Homo sapiens: one gene and its partners. The protein of the gene in region 2 interacts with the protein of the main gene of each other region in a biochemical or structural test. Each region holds a gene or a part of one and is shown on either strand. Other genes may lie near its edges.

Region 1 (7,779 bases), on a different chromosome or scaffold from region 2:
TTAAAGCATAGCATGTCTCAGTGAATGAAAATGAATTACCCAAAGAGACGCACATGACCAAAAAAGGTCATCTCTTACCACTGCTAGTTAGAATGAAAGGCTGGGTTGGATGAACAGCAATACAGCGAATGTAGTCTGAGTGTGCTTCAAACATATGAACTCTCTCCAGAGTATTGTAATTGAACACTCTAATCTGCATGTCATCCTAGAAACAGAAATTTTAAAACCATCATCCCTGTTATCAAGTAAATTATACAAAAAAACTATATCACAGGCTCAAGGAATAAAGTCTATGCCTCAAAACATTGCTGTAAATAACAAAACAAATCGGGAATCAAAATCCTGCAACAAATTTACACAATCATTGACCAATTCAGAAAATGGGAATAGAGATTCATATTAATTACTTACCGCTCCTGTCACAACCCAATTCTTCCTTGCAACAAACTTTGCAGCTCGAACAGGAAGATCACATACTTCAAATGTCTTCACCAGTGTCTTTAAAATGTAACAAGAATACACAAATTGAGCTATAAGAAAATAACCACAAAATCTACTCTGTTATATTTCAAACATCCAATTTTTAAGATCACTTCTCATTTTAGTATATTCTCAGGCTAAAATATAAAAGCTCAACATTCAAATTTTTAAAAAAGACCAACTATCTTTTAATAGATTCGAAATTAAAACACTTTTTAAAAGATAAGAGAAGGCAAATATCCACAAGATGGTATTCCAGATCCTCTGTGCTCCAGCCCTTCCCTCCCTTTTCCAGCCTCACCTTTGGCTACTCCCAGCCTCACCTCTGCTCTTGTTGTCTCTGACTTGAAAATCCACCCATGGAAACTTGTACTTCCCTTTCATAATGTAGCACCTCATAATTATGTTTAGTGCCAATCTTTCCTGCTAAGCTCTCCAAAGGCAGGAATATTTTTCACACTGTATAGGCAGAGGATAGAACAGTGGCTGGCACACAAGTAGTGTGTAATAAATATTTGTTGAATGAATTAGCTCTTAGTTTCTTTTTTTCTTTTCTTTTTTTTTTTTTTTTTTTTTTTGAGACAGTCTTACTCTGTCACCCAGGCTGAAGTGCAGTACAGTGGCACAATCTTGGCTCACTGCGACCTCCGCCTCCCAGGTTCAAGTGATTCTCATGCTTCAGTTACCCAAGTAGCTGGGATTACAGGTGTGCACCACCATGCCAAGCAAATTTTTGTATTTTTCGTACAGACGGGGTTTCACCATGTTGGCCAGGGTAGTCTCGAACTCCTGGCCTCAAGTGATCCACCCGTCTCAGCCTCCCAAGTGCTGGGATTACAGGCGTGAGCCACTGCACCTAGTCAGTCTTTTTGAAATTGAAACCCATAAAAGTGACTCATGAATAAGGTACAATTCTTTTGCATGCTTTAGCAATATGATTCCATACAAATGTTATTATTTCTTTTTAATAAAATATGAAAACACCGTGACTTATATGTTCCTCCGAGCTGCTCAGAATGGAATTATACACATAGGATAAAGGTAGAGACCCTCCTAGAAAGAGCAGAGATCATGGTACCTCTTTGTTCTCCTTCTTTGATGCCTGTTCTTAAAAGTCTGAAAGTCAAACTATCATTTTCTAATCCTTTTTTGTATCAGAGAGCAAAAATGAAATAACTAAGAAACACAATATAATCTTACTGATTGATTAACCATGTGCACTAAAAAAGTAATAGGGACCGGTTCATAAGAACTGTCCTACTCTGACTTTTCAAGCCAGAGTTCAAAGATTCTTTAGACAAAGGCTGAATGAGTAGGCACTTCAACTCTAACCTGTAGAATCACTACCAGCTGACTATGATACAGAAACTGAGAGTAGACACAACATGCGATCTATAACACGGCAGAAAAATCCACAAAAGCTCATGAGGAGCCAACAAATCCAGGGATCTGCTGAGCAGTAAAAATAAAGCAGCTGCAGAAGAAATAGCCAAGGTTCAACGCCATGTTAGGGGCTATGACTGATGCAAATAAAGAGTAAGAAAAGCTACACACACAATACATACAAATACTCAACGTAGATTAGGAAAGTATAACTAATGACTAATACTTATATGGTACTTTATAGGTTTCATACACAATTTTATCTAATTTTATTTTATCTTTTTGACAATCCTGTGATGTAGGCAAGGCAATAATATCATCTTCACTTCAGATAAATAAAGAGGCTCAGCATGGTTAAAAGGCTTGCCTATATAATTTAATCAGCAAGTTGGCTTCAAATCCTAAAATACTATGTTTTTTAAACCACTGCATGTACCACCTCAAAGAATATATAGCATCTCCTTATTTGAAATTCAAGTACATCTAAAAACCTTTTTACTTCCAAAAACCTTTTTGGCTCTCTCAAGAATTTGCTCTCAATATAGGAGTGGTAAATGCTGTTGGTGATATAAACACAGGGAAAAAACAGGGAGAATCAAAGACAGATTAATCATTCAACAAAGACTTACTATCTACCAGGAGCCTGACAGTGTATCAGGTAGTGCCTCATGCACTGGACCAACAGTGGGAAATAAGATGAGGGTAATCCTTGTCCTCACAGAACCTCCATTCTTAGAGGAAAGAAGGAAATTAAACATGAAATTACCACTGAGATGAATTATGAAAGGGGAAGCAGATGGTCCTGTCATAGGGCAGAAAAAGGTATAGAAGAGAAAAAGGAGGCAAAGTGGAAATGCAGATAAAGCAGAGATATATTACAATAAAGCCTAGAGAAAGATAAGAAAAGTACGCCTGGGCTTTAGAACATACGATGATCAAGTGATAGAGCTGAGATAGGTAAATGTAGCTGATAAGAGGGAATCCCTAGGAATAATCAGAGAGAGAGGACACCAACGTATCTGTTAAACATAAAATCAGAAATATTTTAAACATCTCAAGAACTAAACAAAAAGCAAAAAAAAAAAGTTATTTGCATCAAAGCAAAAACAATTCACAAGATAAAGATCTGAAATTGTAGAGAACACAAATACTGAACTAGTGATAAGTGAAATGCATATTATTCATTGGTTGAACAAATAATTATTGAGCATTTACTATGTGCCAGGTAATGTTATAGGTACTGAGATACAGCAGAAAACAAAATGTTAATTTATATAAAATGTCACTGATGGACTATGATATGGTTTGGATTTGTATCCCCACCCAAATCTCATGTCAAATTGGAGGAGGACCCTGGTGGGAGGTGATTGGATCATGGGGGTGGATTTCCCCCTTGCCGTTCTCGTGATAGTGACTTCTCATGAGATCTGATGGTTTAAAAGTGTGTGGCACTTCCCACTTTGCTCTCTCTCTCCTGCCATCATGTGAAGAAGGTGCTTGCTTCCCCTTCACCTGCTGCCAAAATTTTAAGTTTCCTGAGGCCTCCCAGTCATGCTTCCTGTTAAGCCTGTGGAACTGTGAGTCAATTAAACCTCTTTCCTTCATAAATTACCCAGTCTCAGGTAGTTCTTTACAGCAGTGTGAGAACAGACTAATACAGGGTATGAGTTTAGTGTACAGTCATTTCTGTTTCATTACAGTGAGTATAAAAGTATAAAGGTGTTTTTAGGTTTACTTCTGGCTTTGGTTCCTTGATGTCATTTTGCCATTTTAAATTCCTCAAATGCGAATTTTACCTGGATTTCAAGAACTTAACTTTGGACGTTAAGGATAATTACTATATAAGTAGACACAACTGTATAGTATAGTGCTAACTATATGCTTTGTACTCTTAAATACAGTCTAGGAAGACTGGAAAATATGAGACAAACTAATTTGAAGGATATGTTATTTACTCAGGTGAAAGAGAATGAGTCAAGCATTCAGGCAGACAATCTGTAAGATGTGTGTATAATCAAAAGCTGACTATAAATATTTCCCTGATATAATCTATATGGCTGAGTGAAAGATTTATCTGTGTATCATTATATTGGGCATCTGGGAGAAAAATAAATTTAACGATATCATTCTTAAGATAGAGTATTCACTGAATGGAAAACTAACGATTAAATACTTTAGCAAGTGATTCTATAATACCATCAGTTTTCTCAATTTCAAAAAAGAGCTAATACTACCTAAGTCAGAGTTGTTATATTTAAATATTGTATATAACATACCCAGGACAGTTTCTCCTACAAACTATCCCCTCATAAATGTTAGTTCCTTCATATTTAAAATACTTTGTACCAACTTGAGAAAGCAGTTTGCATATAGATTCTGGATTCTGTTATAATATTTCTTCTCTTTCATTATAAACACAGTCTCACATAGTATTTTATTTCTAATACAGTCCTGAAAAATTCCTACCTGTGTTTCATGATTCCAAACACACACACTGCCATTGTAAAGACTTGCCAACATCCATGGCTCTGTAGGATGCAGATCCACACTCTTAACTCGATCAGATCTAGCAGTTAGCTTTCTTTTGATATCAAGTCGCAGAGGCTAAAAAGAAACATTAAAAAAATTAAATTGCTAAGCCAAATAAAATATGTTTGAGATTTTAACTAAATAAGTGCATGAATAGGCCTACAAAACAATTCAGCTACTACTTTGCTAAGCTTTTGAAACAGTTTCAAGTCTAAGCACTTATTTCTTCATTTACACATCAAAAAAATCAGAATATTCAACATTTTAAGATTTACAGCAGTGGTCTTCAAGCTTTTTGCTCTAAGGATTCCTTTATAGTCCTTAAACACTTTGAGGACCCCTAAGAGCTTTTGTTTATGTGAGTTTTAGCTATTGGCATGTTACCATGTTAAAAATTAAACCTGAGACAACTTTAAAATATTTATATATTAATTCATTTTCAAATAACAAAAATAAATCCAGTACATGTTAATTAAAATAACATGTTTTTATGAAAAATAACTATGTTTTCAAAAAATTTAGTGAAAAGAGTGGCAATATTTTACATTTTTGCAGAACTCTTTATAATCTGACTTAACAGAAGACAGATGGTTTCTCATTATCTGCTTCTGCCTTCAATATGTTGTGATATGTTGTTTTGGTTAATGTCTACAAAATAATGCCTGGTCTCACAGATACCTAGTTGGAAAGTGAGGAGTATCTTAATAGTTTTTTCATTACTTGAAATTCTTCGAAATTCGAGAAGTGGTAGTTTCTTAAAGGCTACTTGCAAGGTAAAATCTGAAACCGTATCAATAAGCTGTTTATACTTCGTTACATTAAAATCCATTGGTTAAGTCCATACTTTGAATGGATCTTTCTCTCATGCATGTTTTTCTACCATTAAGCATTGGTCGTTTGGAAAATGCTGGTCCACTGAATTATGCACATCTTCTAGATGCTAACAACATCATGATACTGTATTAAAAAAATTACACATTCACTAATTTCACCACCTACTTCAACTGATAAGCCTTTAAGCATTGGAAATCCATCAAGTTCAGTGAGTTTTTCAAAATTCGAACTTTCACTTGAAAGCTTTAATTTTATCATTGGCAAGAAATACTGTCAGGGACCAGCCAACCTCTTTCAGGTTTTTAAAAAATGTCGACCAAATATTCAAGTCTGAATAAGCAGAGTTTCTCAGTCATTGTTTCAAGTAAAGCTCACAACTTAAAAACGCTACAAGTGTTTCCCCTTGAGACAACTACGATACTTCGGTATGCAGTAGAACTGCTTTATGCATACTCCCCATTTCACCACACAGAATTTAAAAGATGCATACTCAAGTGTGGAGAGGTAATAACATTTTTACTGTTTCATCAATGACATTCTTAAGTGAAAATGACTTTTTAAAAAACTGTCACAATGAAGAATATACTAACAGTACAATTTGGTGTCACTTCACTAGCAGTTTTACCTTCCACTACTTTTACACCATCAGTGCAAATATCAACATTGTGAAAGGTGCCAATAGCGTCTCACTGTTAAGAAAATAATTTTAATTTGTGGACCTCCTGAAAGAGTTTTAGGGACTCTTAAGGAATCGCAGACCACATTTTGAGAACCTCTAGTTCATAGAATTATCTAGTAAATAAATTTACTTTTTTTCTTTTTGAGACGAAGTCTCGCTCTGTCGTCCAGGCTGGAGTGCAGTGGCGAAGTCTCGCTCTGTCGTCCAGGCTGGAGTGCAGTGGCGCTGATCTCTGCTCACTGAAACCTCTGCTTCCCGGGTTCAAGCGATTCTCCTGCCTCAGCCTCCCAAGTAGCTGGGACTACAGGCGCATGCTACCATGCCCAGCTAATTTTTTGTATTTTCAGTAGAGACAGGGTTTCACCGTGTTAGCCAGGATGGTTTCGATCTCCTGACCTTGTGATCCGCCCGCCTCGGCCTCCCAAAGTGCTAGGATTACAGGCGTGAACCCCCGCACCCGGCCAATGAATTTTAAATATTCACAAATCACAATTTTGTGCCCAGGTCAATAGTGTCATATCAGGAAATATTCTGAAGAAGTGTTATTCATGAAGTCCTAGTAACCATAAAGCATAATATTGAGTTCTTTGGAGAAAAATGGTAGATTTATCTTGTCAAAAATACTAGTAAATGCTAGGTAACATAATGTGTGATCAATAAGGGTTATATCCCTATGCATGATGGCCTTTGGTATCAAATGGGAATGTCTGAAATATTTTAATGGATTTAAATTACAGAAACAATGAAAATTGGAAAAATTTAAAACAAAAATAAAAACATTCTCTCAAGTCAGAAAATATGAATAGTTTATACTAGCATTTTCAAGCCAAATTCTTCCTTTGAATTACAGAACAGATAATTATTTGAATAACTATTTTCTCCATTCTCCAAAAAATGCCATTATAGGAGAAAAGTTAATTCAATATATACAATGATCCTTAGGGCAGTGGGCTTAATTCTCTCTAGGAGGCATGCTGAGAAAAGACTGATTTAAAATATATTTCCCCTTCAACAGGTCTTAAACACAACCTAAAAGCTCATTTGGCAAGTTGAGTTACTGTCAAATCTTTATTGCTGTGATCTTCTATGATGATCATGAATGGGACAGAAATTTAAGGTTACTTTTGAATATAAAAAGAAGATCTAGCAGAGACAACTTCCTGAGACAAAACACCTCACAATGCTTTTACTCATCTTTTTTGGGGATTTTTATCAAATTTGGGTCATTGACTACTTCAAGTCTTGTTCTACCCACGCCTCCTTCATTTTCAGCAACAACCTTTACCTCTTACTTTAAAAGATCAGAGTTCTCTGGCTCTTCTCTTCAATCTCCTCAAAAATGTTTTCACTGTCATCAGTCCCTTCCTCTCTCCAATTTTCTACTTTCTTGTTTTTTTTTTTGAGACAGAGTCTTGCTCTGTCGCCCAGACTGGAGGGCAGTGGCGTGATCTCGGCTCACTGCAACCTCCACCTCCCAGGTTCAAGGGATTCTGCCTCAGCCTCCCGAGTAGCTGGGGACTACAGGTGCCTGCCACCATGTCCAGCTAATTTTTGTATTTTTAGAGACAGGGTTTCACCATATTGGCCAGGCTGGTCTCGAACTCCTCTCCTGACCTTGTGATCCACCCACCTCGGTCTCCCAGCTCCAATTTTCCACTTTCAAATCATCATCTTAACATTCCTTGCTAGTTCCCAAAATCAAGGCTTTTTACTTCATTTCTGAATTCTGCCCCATAAATTACTATTACAAATTTTAACTTCTTTTTAAATCTCTATGGAGTCAACAGGTATGAAGAGTCTATTATGTACCAGGCAGGAACCATGGTGAGGGTTTTCATATAAGCCAGCATGTCTCACAATTTTCCTCCAGTAAT
Region 2 (8,392 bases):
AACATTTACAAGTGAATCTGTATAAATCCCATATGCCTCTTTCCCAAACAAACCAAGAAATGGCTTTATGACAGGGGTCCATGACAATGGTATAACAAGGCTTACTTAAACTGCATCATTCTCATTTATATTATACAGACCATTTTGGATAATATGCTCAAAAATGGAGGAAAGCACATAACACCCGATTTTAAAGCTTATTTGCTCTTGTGTCAGTCTTTTGTCAAAGGCAAATACATTTACTTTTTAGATAAAACCAAAGTATAATATCAATTAACTTTTAAACCAAAAGCACAAAATGTCCCAGTTGATAGTTTCGGCATGAGTAAAGGGAAGGGACATGAAAGAATGTCAACTCCTACAAAGCTTAAGTTTAGGGTCACACTTGGGAACAAAAGCATCAACGAAATAAAATATTCTCTTCTCCTATCTTCTTGACATTTTGTCACATCACAAGAACATAACTAAGAGAGTAGCTTTCGTTGCTCCTAAAAAGGGGAAAGGCACCAGTCAGAAATAGGAAAGAAAATCTTGTTAGGCTAACGGTACATGATAGAAATTTCACATTTAAAAGTTTAAAGATGGAGGCTGGGTGTGGTGGCTCACGCGTGTAATCCCAGCACTTTGGGAGGCTGAGGCAGGCAGATCACTTGAGGTCAGGAGTTCGAGACCAACCTGGCCAATATGGTGAAACTCTGCTTCTACTGAAAATACAAAAATTAGCCAGGCATGGTGGTGTGCACCTATATTCCCAGCTACTCAGGAGGCTGAGGCAGGAGAATTGCTTGAACCCAGGAGGTGAAGGTTGCAGCGAGCTGAGATAGTGCCATTGCACTCCAGCCTGGGCGTTGCAGCAAGACTCCGTCCCCCCCCCCCCAAAAAAAAAAAAGTTTAAGGATGTATCTTAACCCACATATTATTTTCTCTACTTGGATGCATCCTCTGTAACTTAGTATATGTAATACTACAGATAGACTTTCTCAACATTTGCTGCCTATGCTAAGGATCTGCAGCCAGGTTCTCAGAAGCAGTACCTACCAATTCTCAACAGCAGATGGCAATGTTGTACAAGTTAACGACAGAACTACTTTTATGCCACAGGAGAGGAAGACACAAGGAGTCAAAAGGGGGAAAAAAAAAGTTTGGGTTCATAGTAGCAGGAACATTAACAGAATAGCCTGAGATTTTAACAGCATAACTCATTCCCTCTTCCACCTTTGTACTTTATCCAGGTCAACACATCAGGGTTCTCTAACGATTCCAGTATTCTGTTTCTTTACTGTAAGATACATGTAATTCTTGCCACTGTGATTAAACAAGCCCTGTAATAGTCAGCAGGGTTAAAAAGAGATTACGGAAAGGATAAACTCCTACCTACTTTCTTGGGAGATGTGGGAAAGATTTCAAGTCACAGCATTTTTCATAACTGTTTATAAACAATGGTCATTTATATCCACACTTTCTCTTATTTACATTAGTTTTGGCCCTTAGGCAACTCATACTCCTACAGTGATTATTGGCTTTGCTTTCATAACATGTATTTTTAAGTATTTACTCTCTTAATGGCCCTCGATGTCTATTTTATACATCATATCTCTTAATTCTCTAGATGGAACACTGAAGGACAGGAATTAAGTAAGTGACTGGCCATGCAAGGGTTGGAAATTTTACTTATTTTTCCTTGGTAGAAGTTATGTTAAAAATTCAAGCAACCACATATCTAACAGAGGAATTTTATCTAGGATATATAAAAAACCTCTCAAAACTCAATAGTAAAAAGAACAAATGACCTAAATAGAAAATAGACAAAAGACATGAAGACATTTCACCGAAGAGGATACATAGATGGCAAATTAGCACACAAAAAGATACTCAACATCATTAGCCATTGGAAATGCAAATTAAAACCACATGTGGTATCATTACACACATCTATGTGAATGGTTAAGATAAAAAATAGTAGTAATACCAAATGCTGGTGAGGATGTGAAGAAACTGGATCAATCATACATTGCTGTCTGAATTGTATGAGTGGCTGTATGTAAAAAGTAGAGCCACTCTGGAAAAAGAGTAGGGTAGTTTCTTACAAAAATATATGTGTTTACCATACAACCCAACAGTTGCCCTTTTGAGCATTTATCCCAGAAAATGAAAATGTATGTTCACATAAAAACCTGTACATGAATGTTCACAGCAGCTTTATTAGGGCAAAAAACTGAAAACAACTCTTATGTCCTTTAGTGGGTGAATGGTTAAGCAAACTGTGGTACATCCATACCATGGAATACTACTCAGCAATCAAAAGGAACTGCCCCCACTTCACCACGATGCAATATATGCATGTAAGAAATCTGTACTTATACCCCCTAAATATATAAAACATTTTTAAAAGAAAAAAAGGAAGAAACTATTCATACATGCAACAACTTGGATGGATTTCAAGGGAATTATGCTGAATGAAAAAAGATCAGCCTCGTAAGATTACATTCTGTATGATTCCATTCATACAACATTCTTGAAATGACAAAATTACAGAGATGGAGGACAGAACAGTGGTAGCCACAGGTTGGGGTGAGGGTATAAGAAAGGGATGTGGCTGCGGCTGTAAAAGGGCAGTGCAAGGGATCCATGTGACAGAACTGTTCTGTCTCTTGTGATGGTGGTCACATGAATCTACACATGTGATAATATTGCATAGAATTAAATACACATACACGAAAAAAGTTCAAGCAGTTGAGCACAAATATTTTAATTGTCTAAAATGACATTTTCTTTAAGAGTTATCTACAGTTCAAAGCTCACTTTTATGAGGTGTCACATCCATCACCATTTTAAGAGATATAAAATCATGAAAAGATATCACCAGAAGCTATGTAAACATTTCAGCTAAGGGTAAAGAGAAAGTTAAGGGTGTTTTCACAAGGAAATTGAAAGAGGGCAATCCAAATGAAGTCAACATGGTCACACAAAAATCTTGGTAAAAGAACTAGAATGGAAGCCCAAGCTGCTGAGCAAGTGGGAGAAGAAAAGAAAACATAGTCCAAACAGATCACACAAGGGAACCCAGGACAAATGCTGACTTTGGCATTATCTAGGTAACCCCTATTTTTTGTCATAGGTGACTCTAATAATAGACCTATTGTTGCAAAACCAGTCAAAATCCTACCAAATTAAAAAGAAGTCCCTCATTGACTTGTTGGGTGTAGGTGGTACCCCATGTCCTCCCACACCAAAAGAGATCAGTTCTGGCAAGAAAGCTCCAACGTGCCTTGATGGTGCTGTTGGTAGGATGCCTTAGGCCAGGCACGTCCCAGCGATGTTCTGCTGGCTGAGGTACAAGGTGGGAGGAGAATATGCCTCATTCATTACTCAATCAATTTCTTGGCCTTGAAGAAGCGTCGCAGGTAGAAGACCTGCCAGGTAGCTAGTCCAATGAGACAGAACATTGAAAAGATGCTGAAGTATAGGACCCGAGTGTTTGTTGACTCTAAAAAAAAACAAAAGCATTGTAAACATAATGAAGTGAGCCTCCTCAGCTGGCTAAACAATGGCAGGGGAGGTGGGTAAAGGCAATTAATTAACTTCACTCTGTCCCTAGGTCTAACAGTAGGATTTCAGATAATTTTTCTTTTTAAGTTCATTATCCTGGCTGGGCATGGTGTAATCCCAGCCTGTAATCCCAGCACTCTGGGAGGCTGAGGCAGGCAGATCATGAAGTCAGGAGATCGAGACCATCCTGGCTAACTCTGTCTCTATTAAAAATACGAAAAATTAGCCAGGCATGGTGGCTTGTGCCTATAGTCCCAGCTACTTGGGAGGCTGAGGCAGGAGAATTGCTTGAACCCAGGAGGCGGAGGTTGCAGTGAGCCGAGATCGCACCACCGTACTCCAGCCTGAGCGACAGAGCGAGACTCCATCTCAAAAATAAGTAAATAAATAAAAATAAAAGTTCATTATCCTATATATAAATGTTGAAAATTACAAAGATTGGTGCTATCAGTTTGATGTGGGTATAGACTAATTGAGGATGTTGTCACCTGCCTATCACAGTAGGAGTTTCTACTCTCTTGAAAATCTAACAAGGCTCATTTACCTTTAGCAGCAACAACAGCGAAGCAAGCAATTTCCCCTCCATATACCCACCTTGGCAAAACTGAGAAAAGGGTACACCAGAATTGAAAGTTTGGAGACTGTCTCATTTATGGGTCACTTAAGAAGTAAGAGTCGCCTTCCCCCTCACCGTTGGTATCACGCATCTCCTCTTCTCTCTTCTTCATGTAGGCAAAATCATTAACAATAGATTCTGAAAGGTCTTCTAGGCGTCGCAGCTCTACCTCTAATGGTTTGAGCTTCTCAACTTTTGCAATCTGGAAAAGAATGGAATATTTTCAGCTCTCTGAAAACATCGCTTCAGTCAAGAACATAAAGAAGGCAACAGAGAAGTCTTTTTTAAAGTTTCACCAGATTTAAATTCTCTCCTATCAATCATCCTAACATATTTTAAAATTTGGGCTTCTTTCTTTCCCTATAGACTATATCTTTCCATTTCAGACCTTTTTTGATACTTTAATTTTGACTAAAATCTTAGAAGTAATATAATAACCGTAGGCTATAAAGTAAGATATACTATTGTCTCAAGATTTTTTACTTTTTTTTTGAGACAGGGTTTTACTCTGTTGCCCAGGCTGGAGTGCAGTGGCACAGTCTTGGCTCACTGCAGGCTCGACCTCCTGGGCTCAGGCAATCCTCTTGCCTCAGCATCCCAAGTAGCTGGGACCACAGTCATGCACTGCCACACCCAGCTAATTTTTATACTTTTTCTAGAGATGGGGTTTTGCCATGTTGCCCAGGCTGGTCTCGAACTCCTAAGCTCAAGCAATCTGTCCGCCTTGGCCTCCCAAAGTGTTGGGACTACAAGTGTGAGCCACCATGCCCAGCTGATTTTTGACTTTAGTAAAGCACTTTACTTTGCACTTCCACTCATGTCTAAGAAGTAAACTATTGTTAATACAATAAATGTGGGAGTCATATTAAGTCAAACCTGGTTTTAGAAGAAAAACCACTAAATTCATTAAACCTTTGACAGTACATAGGAATGTGAGCATGTGTTGTTATAGCATTAAAGTAATAATTCAAAATACACAATTAGAGAATTCTGGTTCATATAAATCCTACAACAACTTTAAGGTTTAATATCAGAGCTCAGATGTGAGAAAACTGCACTGAATTTTTTATGTATTTTTTTCTTTTAGAATGACACAGCCAGTTATCAAAAGAAATCTTCAAGGAATTCCCTGTATGCTGAGGAATGAAGGATGTGAGAAAGAAATTAACTGTCTTCTGCTCTCAAGTTAGACCCCTAAGAAAACTCTTAAGAGTATCTAATAACTAGAGGCATCTGTCACACCAGCAAAGATGTCATTATTGTTTTTTTCTTATCAGTCTTAGATTATGCTTTGCTTTAAAATGAGATACACCACCAGAGCTTTCCAGATCTTTTTTTTTTTTTTTGGAGATGGAGTCTCACTCTTGCCAGGCTAGAGTGCAGTGGTGTGGTTTTGGCTCACTGCAACCTCTGCCTCCTGGGTTCAAGTGATTCTCCTGCCTCAGCCTCCTAAGTAGCTGGGACTACAGGCGTGCGCCACCACACCCAGCTAATTTTTTGTATTTTTAGTCGAGATGGGGTTTCACCATGTTGGTCAGGATGGTCTCGATCTCTTGACCTCGTGATCCACCTGCCTCGGCCTCCCAAAGTGCTGAGATTACAGGCGTGATCCACCATGCCCGGCCAGCTTTCCAGATCTTAAAACTTTTACATACCAGTTGCTCTTAAAGTTTCCACATAGAGAATTCTTTAATAATTCTGTTTCTGGCCGGGTGTGGTGGCTCACACCTGTAATCCCAGCACTTTGGGAGGCCGAGGTGGGTGGAACACGAGGTCAGGAGATCGAGACCATCCTGGCTAACACGGTGAAACCCCGTCTCTACTAAAAATAAAAAAAAAAAATAGCTGGGCGTGGTGGCGGGCGCCTGTAGTCCCAGCTACTCGGGAGGCTGCGGCAGGAGAATGGCGTGAACCCAGGAGGCGGAGCTTGCAGTGAGTTGAGATTGTGCCACTGCACTCCAGGATGGGTGACAGAGCGAGACTCCATCTCAAAAAAAAAAAAAAAAATTCTGTTTCTTTCTTTCTTTTTTTTTTTTTTTTAAGGATGGAGTCTCACTCTGTTGCCCAGGCTGGAGTACAGTGGTATGATCTTGGCTCACTGCAACCTCTGCCTCCCAGGTTCAAAAAAATCCTCCCACCTCAGCCTCCTGAGTAGCTGGGATTACAGGTGTGTGCCACCCCACCCAGCTAATTTTTATATGTTCAGTAGAGATGAGATTTCACCACGTTGGCCAGGCTGGTCTTGAACTCCTAACCTCAGGTGATCCATCCACCTCGACCTCCCAAAGTGCTGGGATTACAGGCGTGAGCCACTGCACCTGGCCTTAATAATTCTGTTTATATATCTGCTTCTTTACTCCCTATTTACTGTACATTCCCTATGGCCCACTTTTTTTTCTCTCCTTTGTTCAATTCATTGTCCTTGTCCTTTTCTTTGTGAAATGTTAACAGCAGTTAACAAGGGATGAATAGGAGGCATTTATTTTATGTTTTCTTATTATATTCTTCACTAAATGTGTGATGAACAAAAGTTATTTAAAATAAAACAAACTGCTGTTAAAATTGGGATGTAAAAATTGAGTTTATATTTAAGGTCCATAAAAATATGGTGATAGACTTGCGATGATACACCTACAGTTTTCTCTCACCAGAAGCACATTTTCTTGCGTTTGTAAAATGTTGGCTAGAGTTAACGGTGTGACTGGTAACTGCAGAACAGCTTCTGGGTGTAAGATTTAACCAATAGTTAATGCACAGAGCTAACTTTCCTAAGTGAATGGCCAAATGCCAGGTTTTGTCATTAACCCAGAATATATATCTGTTCATTGATCTCATATAGAGCTGCAGAACAAAAAAAAATTCCTCAAGAAAAATACAGGAGCTATACAAGCTGAACCTTAGTCTAACATCTTCCCTCCTGCTCTATACTTCCCCACTCAGAGCTTCCTAAATGAGACAGTATAAAGGAAATGGCATGATACTTCTTAGAGATAAATTATTTAAAGTTCCCTAAATAGAAACTTGCAAAAGAAACTGGAAGTGAAACTATGGCTGTGCCTCTGCCAGCTGAAAATGATATTAAAAAAAAAATTACTTTAAAGCCTACTGAATCCCACAGCCTTTGCTTCTTTTTTTTTTTTTTTTTTTTATTTTTGTTGTTGTTGTTGTTAAAGGACAATAGTCCAGAGACCTAAAACCCGAAAAACAATGATGGAATTAAACCTGGTACTGAAGATGGCTTTTGTAGATTACAGCCCCCCACAAGCTGTTCCCAATCCCTTTCCAGTAATAAAACTTATTTTTTAGTTGTACAACCAACACATAAATATATTCTTTGGCTAAAAATTTAAACTATCCAGAAGCAAAGAGAATATAAACCAAAAGTCTACCTTCATGGTTCCTCAATTCCCACATTGCTTTCCAGAGGTAAAGATGCTTATAAACTTGATGTATTATCTTTCCACACCTTTTCTTCTGAGACACTATGCTTTTGTATGTAAATGTACACAGAAAAATATAACTTAAAATCTATTTATAAATGGCATACTACACACATTGTTCTATAGCTTTTTTCCATTTAGTAAGATCTTTCCAAAAATGTCAGTGCTTATCAATTCATCTTATTCTTAACTGCTGCACAGCATTCCACACAGCTAGTATTCCACATTGTTTAGTTAATCATTCAATTCCCAACCCCTTTTCTAGTACAGGTGCTACTTCAGACTCTACACCTCTATTCATAACCAAACAGTCAAATTCCTATCTTCAAAGTTGATTTTATTTCCTCAACAAAATCTCTGCTGAGGCCAAGCGTGGTGGCTCACACCTGTTATCCCAATACTTCGAGAGGCTGAGGCAGGAGGATCACTTGAGCCTGGGAGGTCAAGGCTGCAGTGAGCCAAGATCATGCCACTATACTCCATCCTGGGAGACAAACTGAGACTCCGACTCAAAAAAAAAAAAAAAAAATCTATTGAATCCCATCTTTCATCCAGAAAATTATTTTCAGACCTTCATTAGTGGGATGAAGGTCTCATTTTGGTCTCATTTCCTAGAAGCCATTTTTGCCTAATAAGTACCTTCACTCATGATACTAATTTAAAATCTAGAAATCTTAAAGAAATCTCAAGAGACTAAAACAGTACTGAAATCTAGCTTGCCATTCCAAACACCTAGTACACCATGGATACTCAATAGTAAAAAACAACAATCATGGATATATTTCTA
Region 3 (7,779 bases), on a different chromosome or scaffold from region 2:
TTCTCCCATCAGATTTTCACTGAGGCCCTACTCCTGTGGATGTTTACAGTGTATATAAATACAACTTAGACCCAGCTCTCTCTCTCTTTTTTTTTTTTCTTCATCTCTGGATGGGCTCAAACAGACCCAGCTCTCTCAAGGAGCTCACTTGGTCTTAGAGCAGCTCCTGCCTCGGGGTCATTTCCAGCTCAAGGAAGGTCCATCCATCCTCAACTGTGACTCTAGGATGACACAATGGCGAATGTCAGTTGTATTCCACTGTGACTGTCCCTCTAGTCAGGAGGAGTTCTAACAGTCCCCATCCACAGGCTGAGCATAATGGTCTGCACTCAGATGGCCCTGAGCCACTGCCCCAAAGTCAGACCTCAGAAGGATCCTGTACTTAGTTCCACCGAGCTAAGATAGGAGAATTTAGAAGGGCTATTCCAGTGCATGAAAGGACTGCCCAGCACAGCAAACAGGTCAAATTTATCCAGAAAGCATTTGACAAGAGGAATCAAAATGTCTTAAAATCATGCTTACCCTTTGACCCAACTATTCTCCTTCTAGGAATCTATCCTAAAGAAATAATCTAAAATGCAGATAAAAATTTGTATCTAAAGGGATATTTAATGCAGCAATATAAATAGTGAAAATATGGAAACCCAAATGCCCAACATTAAAGGAGTGAAAAGTCAATCAAGTTTTGACATAGTATATAACAGTATTTTAAATCCACTAAAAAAATTGTGTTTATGAAGTATTTGTAATGATACTGGAAAATACACTATGGTTTTAAAATAGCAAGGTCTACACTGTAAGAATGATTTCAATTATACCACTTCCCCCCAAAAATAACTCTAAGGATTATGAGTAATGTTTTCCTGTTGTTCATACTTTGTTTTGAATTTTGTTTTTGTATTTCCCAAGTTTTCTTTTTACACATGAACATGTATTTCCATAAGTTTAAAAAGTTATTTTAGGCCGGGCGCGGTGGCTCACGCCTGTAATCCCAACACTTTGGGAGGCCAAGGTAGGTGGATCACCTGAGGTGAGGAGATCGCGACCAGCCTAGCCAACATGGTGAAACCCTATCTCTACCAAAAATACAAAAAATTTGGCAGGCATGGTGGTGGGCGCCTGTAATCCCAGCTACTTGGGAGGCTGAGGCAAGAGAATCGCTTGGACCAGGGAGACAGAGGTTGCAGTGAGCCGAGATCGCGCCACTGCACTCCAGCCTGGGTAACAAAAGAGAAACTTCATCTCAAAAAATAAAAATAAAAAAATAAAATTTTAAAGAGCTAAAAAGCCAAAAACAGCTCCAGTCTCACTGTCAGTTCCTGAAGGGAGTTGCTTTGCAGCCTCAGCACAAAACTGAGCTTCCTGACACCAGGATCTTACCACATACTCATCCTCATAGCCTTCGTCATCAGTCTCCCCAGTGGTGGGATCACAGTCCTTGACAGTGAACTTCATCATGCAGCTGAATGTGCAGGCCACTGTGGGGAAGAGAGGCTGGGTAGTTAGGATGTCCCCAGCCTGCAGGGGATGGGCTCCTCCTGCAGGGGACAAGCAGGCAGGGGTCACAGCCTGCTTTCTAGGCCCCTGCTATGTTATTAGTAGCAGCAACAAGCCATCCAATCCCACAAAGCTGGACAGAGGGTGCCACCTTGTAGGACAGGAAAGTCATGAGTTCTAGTGAGATCCTGTCTCTTTAAAAAAAAAAATTTTTAAAGAAGAGCACTTGGGACTCAGCTATTCTTCTTCTTGGGACTGAAATCAAGGAGCTGAAGCTCTAATAGAAGGCAAACAGCTGGTGCCCAGCCGCCCACCTCCTCCTGACCCCATGAGCTCCCAGGAGGATAGGGTGGTATCTGGAGAGGGGCTCACCAGCTGTGGGGTCTTCTTTGGGCAGTGCCACCAGTGTGTAGCAGGTCCCGGGCTGGTTGTAGGGCAGGCTCCGGGCAGGCACGTAACAGAGCACCTCATAGGCCTCAGTGGGCTCCATCTGCACTGTGACATTCTCCAAGGTCTGGTCATTGAGTGTGTTTGTGCAGTCAAACTGAACAGGAAAGAGAGGGGAGCTTAAACATTGCACTAGGTCCGAGCCATGCTGCAGAGGAAAAGCCAGGAGGTCCCACCTCTTTCCTATTGACCAAGGTGATTCCCATCCCAGTCCCCCTGCCCCAGGTTCCCTGTCTTCATGCTGACAATCGGGAGCCATGGATGTCCCGAGTCAAGAGATATGAGAGACCGACCTGTTGGGGACAGATTCTGTCATCAAGTTGGGCTCCCAACCAATGCAGTGTGGGGACCCATGACCCTACAGGACCTGCCAGACCTGGGACAACTCCCTGGGCGCATGCCCCAGCAGGGCCTCAGCCCACCTTGCTCACCTGAAAAACCATGTGGTTGGTGAAGGTGTGTTTGGTGCAGCGGATGACATACTCCGTCTCTGACTCGGTGAGGGCCACGGGCTCAGGCGAGGACTTGAAGAGGGGCCCAAGACCGCGGAACTCTGGCACTGCTGCCAACTGCTCTGAAATCCACAGGCCACATTCACTCAGCTTCTCGATCCCCAGACCAACTTGTTGATGGTTTCTAATAAATTCCCATGACCATTCTCAAGGTGTTCCACCCTACCTTAGATGGATAGATATGTTTACCCAACTGGCTACTCATTATTTCCTGAATATATCCATGCATTTTCTCATCTCCCTGACTTCGCTCATGTGGCACAACCCCCCACAAATACTCTCCCCATCTCTGTACCATGAAAGACCTCAGAAGCAAAAAACTGATATGAGACCACAAAATCCTAGACCTAATTGGAGAATCCCCCAGCTATAGAAGCTTAGCAAGGATTTCCGCCCCCTACCGCAGCAAGGATTCTTAAAAGAAGGTGACAATTAGGAAAATAAGATCGATACTGCTATAGCTACAAAATCAGACAAAATAACAAACTGGTCCTATATATTTATCAGTTAAGACAAATGGCCAATAAAGAGATATTTCAGAATGAGAGTGTTGCAGAAAACCTAACTTAGAATTGTTTGTGTCTGGTAAGACCTATCCCTACACCCTATGCCCAGGTTCAAGCACTGGATTCAAGCACAGGCCCATGGGACCCCACCCTGGCTGGTCCTGGCATTCCTTGCAAACTAAAGGGAATAACCCAAGTGAATGAGGCATCTGGCAGATGTGTGCACATGGTGTCCACCTATAATGGCTACAGCTGCCACTCTTGTACCTATTCTATGGCAGGATTCCTCGCACTATGACCATGGATCAACTGTATCAGAATTACTAGGGGTTGGCGGCAGAGCTTGCTAAAAACTCAGACTCCATCCCAAATCTACTACATCAGAATCTCTGGTTTCAGGATCAAGGAATTTGCATTTCTAACATGTTTCCTCAGATTATTCCAATATATACTGATATTTAAAGACCACTGCTCTAAGATTTTCAACTTGTCTTCCCAATTAATTGAACTCCATGAGAACAGGGATTGTGCTTTGAGGCCATGGATCTGATATTTTTCCCTTTACTTAGAAGGTACTCAATTCACGTTTCAGACATAGAGAAAGGTAGGCCTTATTTTTATTATTTTGCTTTTTTCCTCCACAAAAAGTCAGCCTATGTGACCACTTCAGCCCTCTGCAGCCTGAAGACTGAATCTAATGAATATGCAGGCAATAAAAAGCCCAGAACAATCCAGGCTAGATATTAGGAGGAACTTTTGGGCCACCATGACCATCAACCACTAGAGTGCTTTTCTATTGATATTTATTTTCTTGGGACTCAGAGTTTTGGGCCTGATACTTACTCCCTGGGGGATTCTGTTGGTAGGGTTTCAGACTCTTCATCAATAAAACTGATATCATTATCTTGATCACAGCGTTGTTGTAAAGACAAATGAGGCAATAAATTCAAGATCTAGGAAAGTTCTTGGAACTGAACATGTATGTGATTAGTAAATGTGAGGCTTTTGGATGATTGTTTAAAAATGGAATTGTTACCCTTTAAGCGGCTTAGGAGACTTCCTTGGAAGGTGTGGCAGAATAATGACTCCAAGATGCCCACATGCTAATTCCCAGAACCTGCAGCTATGTTACCTTGCATGGTAAAAGGGACTTTGTAGATGTGATTAAATTAAGGATCTTGAGCTAGGGGTTATCCTGGATTATCCAGGGGGGGCCAGTGTAATCATAAGGGCCCTTCTAGGGCAGAAGGTCAGAGTAGAGAGATTTGAAAAGGCCAGGAGTGTGGCCTCTTCAAATCACTCTACTCTGACCTTCTGCCCTAGAAGGGCCCTTAAAGACGGTGGAAGGGGCCACGAGCCAAGGATACGGGCCACCTCTAGTAGCTGGAAAAGGCAAGGGGGCAATACCTGGAGCCTCCTGAAAGAACTCAGCACTGCTAACAAATGAAACCCACTTTGGACTTCTGACCGCAGAGCTATAAGGTTATAAATGTGTTAAGCCACTAAGTTTGTGGTAACGTGTTACAGCAGCAATAGAAAACTGATATAAATGGAAAGTTTCATGTTATAGCGATCCCAATTAGCTCAGGATCCATGCTATATTGATATAAGACATGATTCTGAGTGTAATGGGGAAGGGGGGATTTCATTTAATTCAACATTAATTGGGAGCCTACTGTGAGGAAGGAAGGCACTGGGCTCAGTGCTGTGATAGACGCAGAAAATAAAAGACAGAACATGTGAAGAACTATTTAGCACAGAGGGCTGTTTAAGAGAAGACAGAAGAGCTAGGATGGAAGTGAGGGCCCATGAAGGAAGAGGGGTCTATGCTTTTATCTACTGAATTCAGTGGATAAAACAATCTGCAATTAGACACACAGCCTCTCCCCTTAAAAATGCAACACCAGAGGACAGATGGATACCTGAAGAAAACCTTACAAGACAATGTGGACAGAACACACGTGGAACCCGACAAAAAGTACCAGTGTCTTTGAATCCCAGCACTGCTCTCTCAGACATTCTGAACTGGCCTGGGCTCCAGGGACCCGAGCCCTCCAAATTGAGGCCCAGTAACAGCACTGAGCCAGTTTGATCGGGACCTTAATTCCAGCCCCTCCTACTACTTTCTCTCTCTGAACTTCCAATTCCTCAGATATTGAAGGAACCCAACAACCACCACCTGAGGGTCAAATGTGATAGTAGGTCTAAAGCATCTCAAGGGCCTAGCACTCAGGAGAGACCAATATATGACAGTTCTTACTCTTGAACCCCCTGAGGAAACTAAGCCCAGGTCCCAAGCATCCCCCAACCACTGTGACTCACCCTGGAAGATCTCCTGCCTGGTAGCTGCCACTTTCTCAGGCTGTTTGACTGCTGTGATGGGGGTACTTTCTGCAGGAGCAAATTATACACGTGATGACCAACAGCTGGAGTCACGGGGCAGTGTGGTGGTGACCCCAGTGCTATTACTCAGGGATTATAAATACTAACCCTCCTGAGAGTGGGAAGCAGAAGACATGTGAGAGAGCCCACGTCTGTGTGTATGTGTGTCTCTATTTTCTGGAGCCAGAGGTGGAAAAGATCATTTCCTCCTCCCAGCATAACTGCCACCCACCCTAGTTAGGTTAGTGGCTTTGCAGCCAATGCAGACCCTCCAACAGAGGCCTGGCCTTGATGGCCTCTGGGAGGAGTATAAGTGTTACCTGTTCTCTGCTCTGCCATGGGCGCCGTGGCCAGGGGCACAGACTTGAGGTCAAAAGGTTTTTCTGATGGTTCTAGAGTGTACTGCTGCAGAGCCCTCTCCAGACCAGGGATGGACACAGTCAGACCTGGAGGTGAAGAGAGGTCACCATGCCTGGCAGATAGAGCAAAATGTGCACCAGGGACCACCATGGAGGCCCTGGGGTCCCGAAGTTACAAGTCCTAAGTAGTATGACCCTGAGAAAATCACTTTATTCTCTAAGCCTCTGCATTCTCAGACACATCCTCCCTTACAGGGTAGGTGTGGGGAATAAACATATATACAAAGTGACTTGTAAAGGGTAAAGTACTGTAAAAATAAAGTTTTTATTAATGATGAGCGTTTCAATTCACTGGACAATTTCCACCCAATTCAGGTGTGACCTGAATGACCCGGGACCTCCTGAGGTCACCATGATGCCATGAGGTTGCCAGGCAAGTCCAGCCAAGAGCATCTTGCCTCTGATTTCCCCTGCCCAGGGAGTGATGAGAACCACAGCTCCAGTAAGGTGCTGAGTCCAAGATAGCCAGGGAATGACTCACCATTTAGGATATAGCCTGCATTAAGGGCCTTCTGCTTCTGCTCCAGGACATTTAGGTAGAAGGTGGCTCGGTCCCTTACTTCATTGTCATCATCCATCACACACCTGCAGCCAGGACACAAGGTGGTCCTGACTGGGACCCAGCAGGGATGGCAGGAGGGATCCTGCATGGCTTCATTAGAGGTAAGTCCATAGGGATAACAAGTAGACTAGTGGTGGCCCCAGGCGGAGGGTGGAGGGAGTGAGGAGAGGCCACACTCATGAACACTGAGTTCCCTTTGGGGTGATGAAATGTTTTAAACTCAGGTTGTGGTGATGGTTCCATCACTCTGTGAATATGCTAAAACCCATCAAACTACACATCTTAAATGGGTAAATTGTATGGTATGTGAATTATATCTCAATAGAGCTATTTTTTTTTTGAGCTGGAGTCTCGCTCTGTCACCCAGGCTGGAATGCGGGGCATGATCTCGGCTCACTGCAAGCTCCATCTCCCAGGTTCACACCATTCTCCTGCCTCAGCCTCCCAAGTAGCTGGGACTACAGGCACCCGCCACCACACCTGGCTAATTTTTTATATTTGTAGTAGAGACGGGGTTTCAGCGTGTTAGCCAGGACGGTCTCAATCTCCTGACCTTGTGATCCGCCCGCCTTGGCCTCCCAAAGTGCTGGGATTACAGGCGGGAGCCACTATGCCCGGCTTCAATAGAGCTATTTTTAAAAAATGGACAAAATAATTCAAGTTACCAATTGTCACATCTGGTTGGTGCAATTTGCACAGCATTGTTTTTCATGCTTTTCTATGCTTTCTCTTTTTTTTCTACAATCAGTAGCTGTATAACTTTTCTCTCCCTTTTCAGTTAAAAAAAAATAAAGACAAAGGAAAGCTGCTTGGGTCCAAGGGAACACTGTCCCCATTAGGGCCCCTGGGCCTAGACTCACCTCTTCAGCAACACCAAGATACTGGGTAACATCTCTTCATTCTGGGCTCCAAACTTCGCCAGAGCACTCACAGCACCTGTGTTTAGGAAGCGAATGTGATTTACCCAATGCACCCTGACAACTCACTGTTTGGGCACTTCCAGCACTCAGAATGGGTCTTCAGGCAGAAGAGCCCCAGAGGCAAGAAGTCTCAAGCCAGGAGGCCCAAAGTCACTACCAACAGAGTGAGTGGCTTTGGGTGGATCTTGGCACCATCCCAGGCCTCAACTTCCTTATCTATTTAATGGAGAAGGGCGCCAGATGGGATTAGTAGCTCCCATTCTAAGGTTCCAGGAGCTAATTTCAAATTAACCATGATGAGGTCACAGAAGCTGGCTATAATGTAAAGCTCCTCACCTTCCATATCCAAATGGCGTCAATTTGCAGTTAAGGCTCAGAATAATAAAAATGAGAAAGGGAACAATTACTTAAAGATCATTTATTGCTGAAAGAAGAAAATCTGTCCAGTGGGGGCATGAAAAGAAATTAAAAATAAAGAATAGGAAGGTTGCTCACTGAATTGTAAACTTTATATAAATGGGTGAATTTTATGGC

The links.
Region 1: the proteins of TMED10 (region 2) and COPB2 form a complex in vitro, tested with the Homo sapiens proteins (one study listed by BioGRID).
Region 3: the proteins of TMED10 (region 2) and COPG1 form a complex in vitro, tested with the Homo sapiens proteins (2 studies listed by BioGRID).

Annotation. Positions count from the first base shown.
Region 1 is NC_000003.12:139,378,969-139,386,747, forward strand, and holds part of COPB2 (coatomer subunit beta'), read right to left. Parts: intron 6,462-7,779; exon of another isoform or gene 6,036-6,461; intron 4,468-6,035; coding exon 4,330-4,467; intron 499-4,329; coding exon 412-498; intron 206-411; coding exon 79-205; intron 1-78. UniProt on the Homo sapiens protein: The coatomer is a cytosolic protein complex that binds to dilysine motifs and reversibly associates with Golgi non-clathrin-coated vesicles, which further mediate biosynthetic protein transport from the ER, via the Golgi up to the trans Golgi network.
Region 2 is NC_000014.9:75,131,520-75,139,911, forward strand, and holds part of TMED10 (transmembrane emp24 domain-containing protein 10 precursor), read right to left. Parts: intron 4,368-8,392; coding exon 4,241-4,367; intron 3,488-4,240; coding exon 3,366-3,487; 3' UTR 1-3,365. UniProt on the Homo sapiens protein: Cargo receptor involved in protein vesicular trafficking and quality control in the endoplasmic reticulum (ER) and Golgi.
Region 3 is NC_000003.12:129,266,506-129,274,284, reverse strand, and holds part of COPG1 (coatomer subunit gamma-1), read right to left. Parts: intron 7,262-7,779; coding exon 7,186-7,261; intron 6,349-7,185; coding exon 6,245-6,348; intron 5,791-6,244; coding exon 5,665-5,790; intron 5,354-5,664; coding exon 5,285-5,353; intron 2,519-5,284; coding exon 2,376-2,518; intron 2,140-2,375; exon of another isoform or gene 2,042-2,139; coding exon 1,870-2,041; intron 1,479-1,869; coding exon 1,381-1,478; intron 1-1,380. UniProt on the Homo sapiens protein: The coatomer is a cytosolic protein complex that binds to dilysine motifs and reversibly associates with Golgi non-clathrin-coated vesicles, which further mediate biosynthetic protein transport from the ER, via the Golgi up to the trans Golgi network.